Homo sapiens: one gene and its partner. The protein of the gene in region 1 purifies or fractionates together with the protein of each later gene. This does not show direct contact. Each region holds a gene or a part of one and is shown on either strand. Other genes may lie near its edges. The genes, in order: GPC5 and SPCS2.

Region 1 (3,828 bases):
AACATGATTGAATATGGTAATTGACTATCATATTTTCTAAGATTATCCTCAATCTCAAGAGAGAACATAATTTAGTCATTTCTCCATGAGAATACAAATAGTAATATCTTTTAACAAATCTATTCATTTAGCACATACCCTTTCACTGACTAAAACAAACACATTTAATTTGATTTTGTTTTTGGAAGTACGTATTTTTACTGCTTTCTTGCATTTCTTGTTCACAGTGGTTAATCCCTGAGATGTCTAGCCAAAACACAGTTTGTATAATATAAGCAGGTAGAATAAGTTTTTAGTTTCTTCCTACCTTTGTGACTTTTACTTTTTCTGATAAAAATGTTATCCAAATTGAAATTATTAAAATTGTGAGAGCAGTGATTTAAACTGTTTCTCAGATTCCCCTCACCTTTGTTCTCTACCCTGCTCCAATTCTTTTAAGCCTATTGAGCTCCTAAGGATGTTTGGATGAGAAATGTAAAAAAGGAGAGAAGGTGTAAATGTGATTAGAATTAGAGATTTCCCTGTGTTCCGATTTTATTTTCTAAGTAGTAGTCAAGGTGCCCTTTGCTCTTGTTTATTTTATTCAGAAAAGAACTGTTACTGAAAGTGTCTTTTAAAGGTCTTTTCATTTTTATTTTATTTATTGGGGATGGGGATAATGCTTTTCTATTAAAATTCTCTTTGCACATGCATTGTGCATTGTTCACACATGCAGTAGTTCCTCTTTTAGAGGGTAGTTCAGAAAGGGGAAGTTCATAAAAAATAATACATTTAGATAATTTATATACCAACTATTTTTTGAAATATGCATGTTTGTTGATATAGAAATCTATAGCAAGTATACTCTCGATATCAAGTAGTCTGTGAAAGTAACTTTTCCTTGGTAGATTTTGGCTATAAATAGAGTAATAAAAATAAACTCTTGACATGGCTAAGTGAAATTTTAATACTAAAAGACACTGTAAGCAGTGCTCTGAAGTTGTTGTTGTTTTTTAAACTGCTTTCATTATAATCAAATCTTATTATTGCTCCAAGGACAGTGTAGTTTCATTCTCACACCTAAGAAAAATGATCTGCTTGGTAACCTTGGAGTTTGGATTTACTGGATAGACATTTGGCTTTCAAAACTTGGTTCTACCACTTGTAGTTCTGCTTCATAGACAAATTATCATCTTGAACCTCTGTTTTCTCATTTAGAAATAGGAATATTCTTAAAAAGTGTTTGCATAGATAAAATGAAATAATGTAAAATGTCACAAATCCAGGCACATAGTAAGTGCTGAAAATATGTTCTTGTTGTCATTATAATTTTTTTGTTTACTGTCTTGATTTTAACTTGATTTTTAAGGATGACATTTTAATTTTAGATCTTTATATATCAAAGATGTTTTTACAATAATGAGTTGGTTTCAAGTCAGAAATGATTATTTTTAAATTTGGGAAATGTATTTTTATCTAAAGTGATATCCGTTACATTATGGTGAATATTTTGTTTATTTTTGTGAACTAATAAACCTCTATGAAACAAGGCTGCGCTGCTGCTAGCTGCAATGCCCATAACCACTGTCTCCACTGCCACACCACCGTTCTTCTGTCTGTAGGGAGGTAAAATAGTGCTTCTAAGGTGGTTTACAGATTCACACAATTAGAATGTTGGTGGCCATAGTCACTCATGGACAGTAATCTGAAATTGCGACTCTATTTCTCATGAAACCAATTTTGCTGTTTGAACAACGTGTTTGTGGGGATCAAATTTCCAAAGCCAGAATTGGGACCCGTCGTCTGACATTGGGGCAGATGATTAACATCAGGATTGCCCTGGGTCGAAGCCCACCAGCCAGGAACCACTGGAAACAAGATTGTAGTAAAATTAGATTCATTTTGTTTGTTGCAGCAAGGGAGATTGCACACCAAAGGGACTCTGGAGAGTTTGGTAGTAGGTAGTTGGGAGGGCTTTTTATAGGATTTGGGCTTGTGGTGGGCTATTATTATAAGGAAGGTTTAATGAAGTGGGGCAATTCAGGAATTGGCTATTTTGGTAACTTTTATCTAGGTGTTAGAAAGATTAAGGTGGGGTAGTTGTCATAAATAAAGAAGCAGTAGTAGCTAGTGCTGGTTAAAAGAGGGGAATGTTTAGTTATTTTTGTGGTTGCAGAGTGCCTTTGTCCTCATCCTTTTATACCACAGGTCCCAAGTGGTCTTGCCTCATCATTGTTTTCTAATTCTGTGCATGTTATTTATCTTGAATTGTGAGCATCAAGGCCCAGTTCCACTTCCAGGACAGTTTGTCACCTTTTCCCTTGGGAAGTCCAGTCTGTGCTTTGATGTCTAAGAGAATCACGTGTTTCATTTTTCTCTAGGCCTTTAGTGCATCTTAATGGTGGAGAAGTGAGTTTGATTTTCTACTTTAGGGTCATAGAATCCAATGGCTCATCAGGTGCTGAACTATACTGATCACACATATTCCCTCATGGGGTTAATTATAACTATTGCTGTCAACTATAAATCTAGTGCATCAACTACAAATATTATATATGTCCCCATTCTCTCTCCATCCCATAATTTAAGTTCCATTTTGCCGAGTGTCCAACATCCTATAGTTGTAAAATTGGCTTAGGAGGGGTACAACTTGAGGAATTTAAGAATAATATTTTCCACTTATCACCCCCCAATCCCTATTATTTTTCCTTGTTTCCAGCCTGTTAAGGCTTTCCGGAAGATGGGTATTTTTGGTGTGTACATGTATGTGTGTGTGTATAATCCACTTTCACATTGTCCTTATATTTGATAAGAACACTTTCTAAATCTACCACATTTCTTTTATAGTTACCTGGTAAGACCAAGAACAACATTCTAGCTAGGTGCCTCAACTAAACAGACATAATTTATAGATGAATGGTCTCTTGGTATAACTGTTCAACCGACAAACAACAGATCTGATTTGTTAAAATGGAGTCATGAGAGACTTGAAACATATGTCTGTTGAAATATATTCTCTGTGAATGTGGTATCTGATCTACTTGGTTAAGTAACAATAGCAATTAATTTTAATAGATAATAGCCATTTTCCATATCTACCTTTCTTTTATAAAGTCCTGACCTTCAACTAGAAGAAAAGGCAGCACTGATTGTGCTCTCAATTCTTGAACTTTTCAGTTTTAGTAAATCTTCCATTTCACTAATGAGATTGCCCAAATTATCCTAAAATGATTATTCATTCCTCTGTGAATCACCACAAACAGCACAGCCCTTGATTAGTTGCATCAGGGCCACATATGGCTACTATGTAAGTTGAATGTGCAGTGTACCTTTATAGAAAGAAAAGAAGATGTTATACTTCCACGTTTTTATGGAAGAATGTATGTTTTCTTAAAAATTTATAAAACTGAAAAGTACAAATAAAGTAAAATAATTTTACCATCCAGAAATAACCACCGAAATGCCTTTGCATTGTCTTTTTAGCATGCTCATCAGCCCCCTGCTAAGCATGACTATTTTTTGAAAGAATATAGAATAATTTCCTTTTTGAAAAACATGGCTTTTCCAATTATGAATGTATCTTTATTTCCCATTTCCCATGCTGTTAAATATCTTTCTAAGCCTGATTTTTTAAAGTGGCTGTACAGTATTGGATTAAATCTCTGTAGCATAAATTAAATTCACCTTTGTCGTTAGAACTGTAGGTTTCCAGTATTCTCTACCATAAAGTCACATACATGGCTGAGGACATCAAAGGCACATGTGCCAAACTCCTACACAACTCATGGCTTTGTACATGATTTACATTACTATACGTTAGGGTTTTTCAGCCTGAGTGCCATTGACATT
Region 2 (3,828 bases), on another chromosome or scaffold:
GAGTTGACTAGAAGGCTCTCTAAAGGAACTGTAGTGACAAGTAGATAGCATCTGATTAGGGAGGCCGTGGATTGCTTGAAGTAGAGGAAAGCTGTTGAAGGGTTTTGAGACTGTGTAAAGTGGTTTTTAGGAAAACTATTCAGATGGTTTGGAGAGACAGAAATTAGAAGACTTCTTAATAAGGCCGTATACACAGTAGTGTATAATATATAATAAAAAGAGACAAATTTGAGTTCTAGTGCCGCATGTTATTAGGTTGGTGCAAAAGTAATTGCTGTTTTTGCCATTGAAAGTAATGGCAAAAACCACGATAACTTTTGCACCTACCTAATAAAAGCCACATGACCTTGGATAAGTTGTGTGATATTACTGAATTTAAATTTCCTTATGTAAATATTGTGGACATTCATACATATTATAGGCTTGTTGTAAGGATCAAATTGTATAGTGCTGGTAAATGTTCTTTGGGTTTTTTAGTTTGGTTTCCTCTGCCCTTTTTATTTTATTTTTATTTTTATTTTTGGTAGAGACAAGGTCTCACTGTGTTGCCCAGACTAATCGTGAACTCCTGGCCTCAAGTGATCTGCCCACCTCAGCCTCCCAAAGTACTGGAATTACAGGCATGAGCCACCGCACCCAGCTCTGTTCCCTGTCCTTTGGAATCTACTAGAAGTAAATGTTCTTTGTAAAGGGCTGTCTGTGGTAAAAAATAGAATGACAAGGTGATGAGAACCCCAACATGAGTAGCAGAAATAGATAAAAGGTCTCACAAAAGAGTGCTTGGAAGATTTAACCAATAAGTGAGGGACAGAAGAGAATAGTCAAGAGCTGCTTGAGTGCCTTTTCTTGGAAAACTTAGTTTCAGCCTTACATTGAACTGTTCCCTCCCTGAATTCCTCTAGCACTTACACTGCACATGGGAATTAAGCTGTCACTTAATATGACATACTGTCTTGTATTATTTCACCAATTTGTATTTGCCCGTTTTCCTGTGAGTGCTTCTCTGTAGTGATCAACACAAGATAAGTACTTTTAGCATTGAATTTCGCAGAGAAAAAACTTGAGATCTGCCACCTCAGTCTTCAGAAACAGCTTTAGAGGATGGTGCCTCTAATTGTTTGAAGACTGAGGGTACTGTGGGAGAGAACTTGGGGAAAAAAATGTTATTCTCAGTGGAGCAGGATCTGAATGAATAGAGAGGCTTTTGCTGTGTGGGAATGAGAAGCTATTACCTTTAATATAATTTTTTTTTTTTTTTGAGACAGAGTCTCGATTTGTCGCAATCTCCACTCACTGCAACCCCCGCCTCCCAGGTTCAAACAATTCTCCTGCCTCAGTCTCCCGAGTAGCTGGGATTACAGGCATGTGCCTCCATACCCGGCTAATTTTTGTATATTTAGTAGAGACAGGGTTTCACCATGTTGGCCAGGCTGGTCTCAAACTCCTGACCTCAGGTGATCCAACGGCCTCGGCCTCCCAAAGTGCGGGGTTTACAAGCGTGCGCCACCACACCCAGCCTAATATAATTTATTTAATTTGATGTGTCTTGATTTGGGCGGGGAGGGTTTTTATTTTATTTCTGCAGCTGTAGTTTCACTTGCCATAAAGAAGTGTAATAAAGAGATGCAAATATGCTCCTAGTTTTCCCTAAGCAGATGTGAATTTCTACTCTTATGAAACTGACTTTAAGAACACAGCAATTCTTGTTTCCTGATCTTAAAAATAAGTATGCAAATATAATCTTTCCGCCTCCATCACAGAATAACTTGACTTAGATCATTGCAGTATGTTATTTTGCCCCAAATACATCAAAGCATTTTCTTCTGCCTGGCAGTTATAAAGAAAAGCTGCTTGCTTAATTTGTTTTGGCTATTAAAGTTGATATGTGGTGTTAAACCATGCTTTCCAGAAGCTATTATCTAGACCCTTTTAGCCTTATACCTGGATTTCTGTCTCCTGGCTGGCCTGTCAGCCTGATCTTAAAGCACAGCTTTAATCTGTTTACATCAGACTCCTTTGAGAATTAGTTAAAATTAACAGATTTTTGGACCTTTTTTTAGGCCTGAATATCTGCATTTTTCTTCACATGTCTCTATTACCTCTGCATTTTAACAGTTACCTCCAGGTTGAGAACTACTGGCTTAAATGATTTTTTAAAGTCTCTTCTGGTTCTGACATTTTAAGGTTTTTGTTTTGTTTTTAAAAGCTATTCTGCTTAATAGTGGTTTCTTTAAAATGTTTATAATGAAGAGATCCTGAAACTCATATGATACTTCAGCCTCATTTTGTAGACAAGGACACAAGCAAAGCAACTTGCCCAAGACCACACAGTGAATTAGTAACACTTACAGAACCTGGCTCCCCCAGTGCTTAATCCAGTGCTCTTTCTTTACTCAGCACATTGCTTCCCATACCAGAGTGTGCCTTGTGCTATCTAATGTGCTAGCTAACGTAGTAGTGGGATGAGCATCTGTTGTGAGGTGGAAGACCTAGGCTGTGGCCTTGGCTTTGTCACCCACCAACCATATGTCCTTAGGTATCTCCTCTTTTACTCTACTGGAAGATATCTTAGCTTGTCAGACTTCCAGGTGATATGCTTGTGCCCTGTTACCTAGCTCTGACAAAGAAGATGAACGGTTTTATAACATTACTATAATTGTGTGTGTGTGTTTAATGAAACAAGGTGCTGGCCTTTTAATACTGTTGCAAACTGATCTTTATTAGCGTCTCAAAACTCATTATTTTTTATTTCCTCAAAATAAAAAGTATGTGTGTGTCAAAGGCCACTATCAAGAAAGTGAAAAAAGACAATCTACAGAATGAGAGAAAACATTTTCAAATCATATATCTGATAAGGGTCTAGCATCTAGACTATATAAAGAATTTTACAACTCAGTAATAAAAAGACAGCAACCTAGTTTTTAAAAGGGCAAAAGATGTAAATAGACATTTCTCCATAGAAGACGTACGAATGGCCCATAGCACATGGAAAGATGCGCAACATCATCAGTCATTAGAGAAATGCAAAGTAAAACCACAATGAGAAACCACTTCACGTCCACTAAGATTGCTATAATAAAGGGGGAAAAAAAAGGAAAATAACCTGTTTTGGTGAGAATATGGAGAAATCAGAATCTTCATATATCGCTAACAGGGATGTAAAATGTGGTGGCACTCTTGGAAACAGTTTGACAGTTCCTCAGAAAATTCAACGTAAAGTTAACCATATGACCCAACAATTCCACTCCTAGGTGTATACCCAAGAGAACTGAAAATGTGTGTCCACAGGAAAACTTGGCACACAAATGTTCATAACACAGTTATCATAATGGCCTAAAGGTAGAAACAGTCTGTCAGCTGATGAATGGATAAATGCAATGTGATATATCTATACAATGGAATATAATTTGACCGTTAGAATAAAGTATTGATACATACTACAATATGGATGAATCCTGAAAATGCGCTAAGTGAAAGAAACCGATCACAAAAGGCCATATATAGTATGACTGCATTTGTATATCCATAGAGACAGAAAGTAGATTGTTGGCTGCCCGGGGATAGGGGACAGGAATAAGATGTGACTGCTAATGGGTATGGAGTTTCTTTTTGAGGGTATGCATATATTCTAGAATTAGATAGTGGTGATGGTTGCATAACCTTGTGAGTATACTAAAAACCACTGAATTGGCATTATTTTTAAATAGTGAATTTTATAGTGTGTGAACTATATCGCAATTTTAGAAACTTATTTTTGTCTTTCCTGGAGTAACCCTTAAAGTTTCAAATTATTATTTCTTTAAACTATATGTCATGTAACACAGTGGT

What was found.
Region 2: the proteins of GPC5 (region 1) and SPCS2 purify together in Homo sapiens (affinity purification with mass spectrometry; one large-scale study listed by BioGRID and IntAct). This does not show direct contact.

Annotation. Positions count from the first base shown.
Region 1 is NC_000013.11:91,401,399-91,405,226, forward strand, and holds part of GPC5 (glypican-5 precursor), read left to right. Parts: intron 1-3,828. UniProt on the Homo sapiens protein: Cell surface proteoglycan that bears heparan sulfate.
Region 2 is NC_000011.10:74,951,975-74,955,802, forward strand, and holds part of SPCS2 (signal peptidase complex subunit 2), read left to right. Parts: intron 1-3,828. UniProt on the Homo sapiens protein: Component of the signal peptidase complex (SPC) which catalyzes the cleavage of N-terminal signal sequences from nascent proteins as they are translocated into the lumen of the endoplasmic reticulum.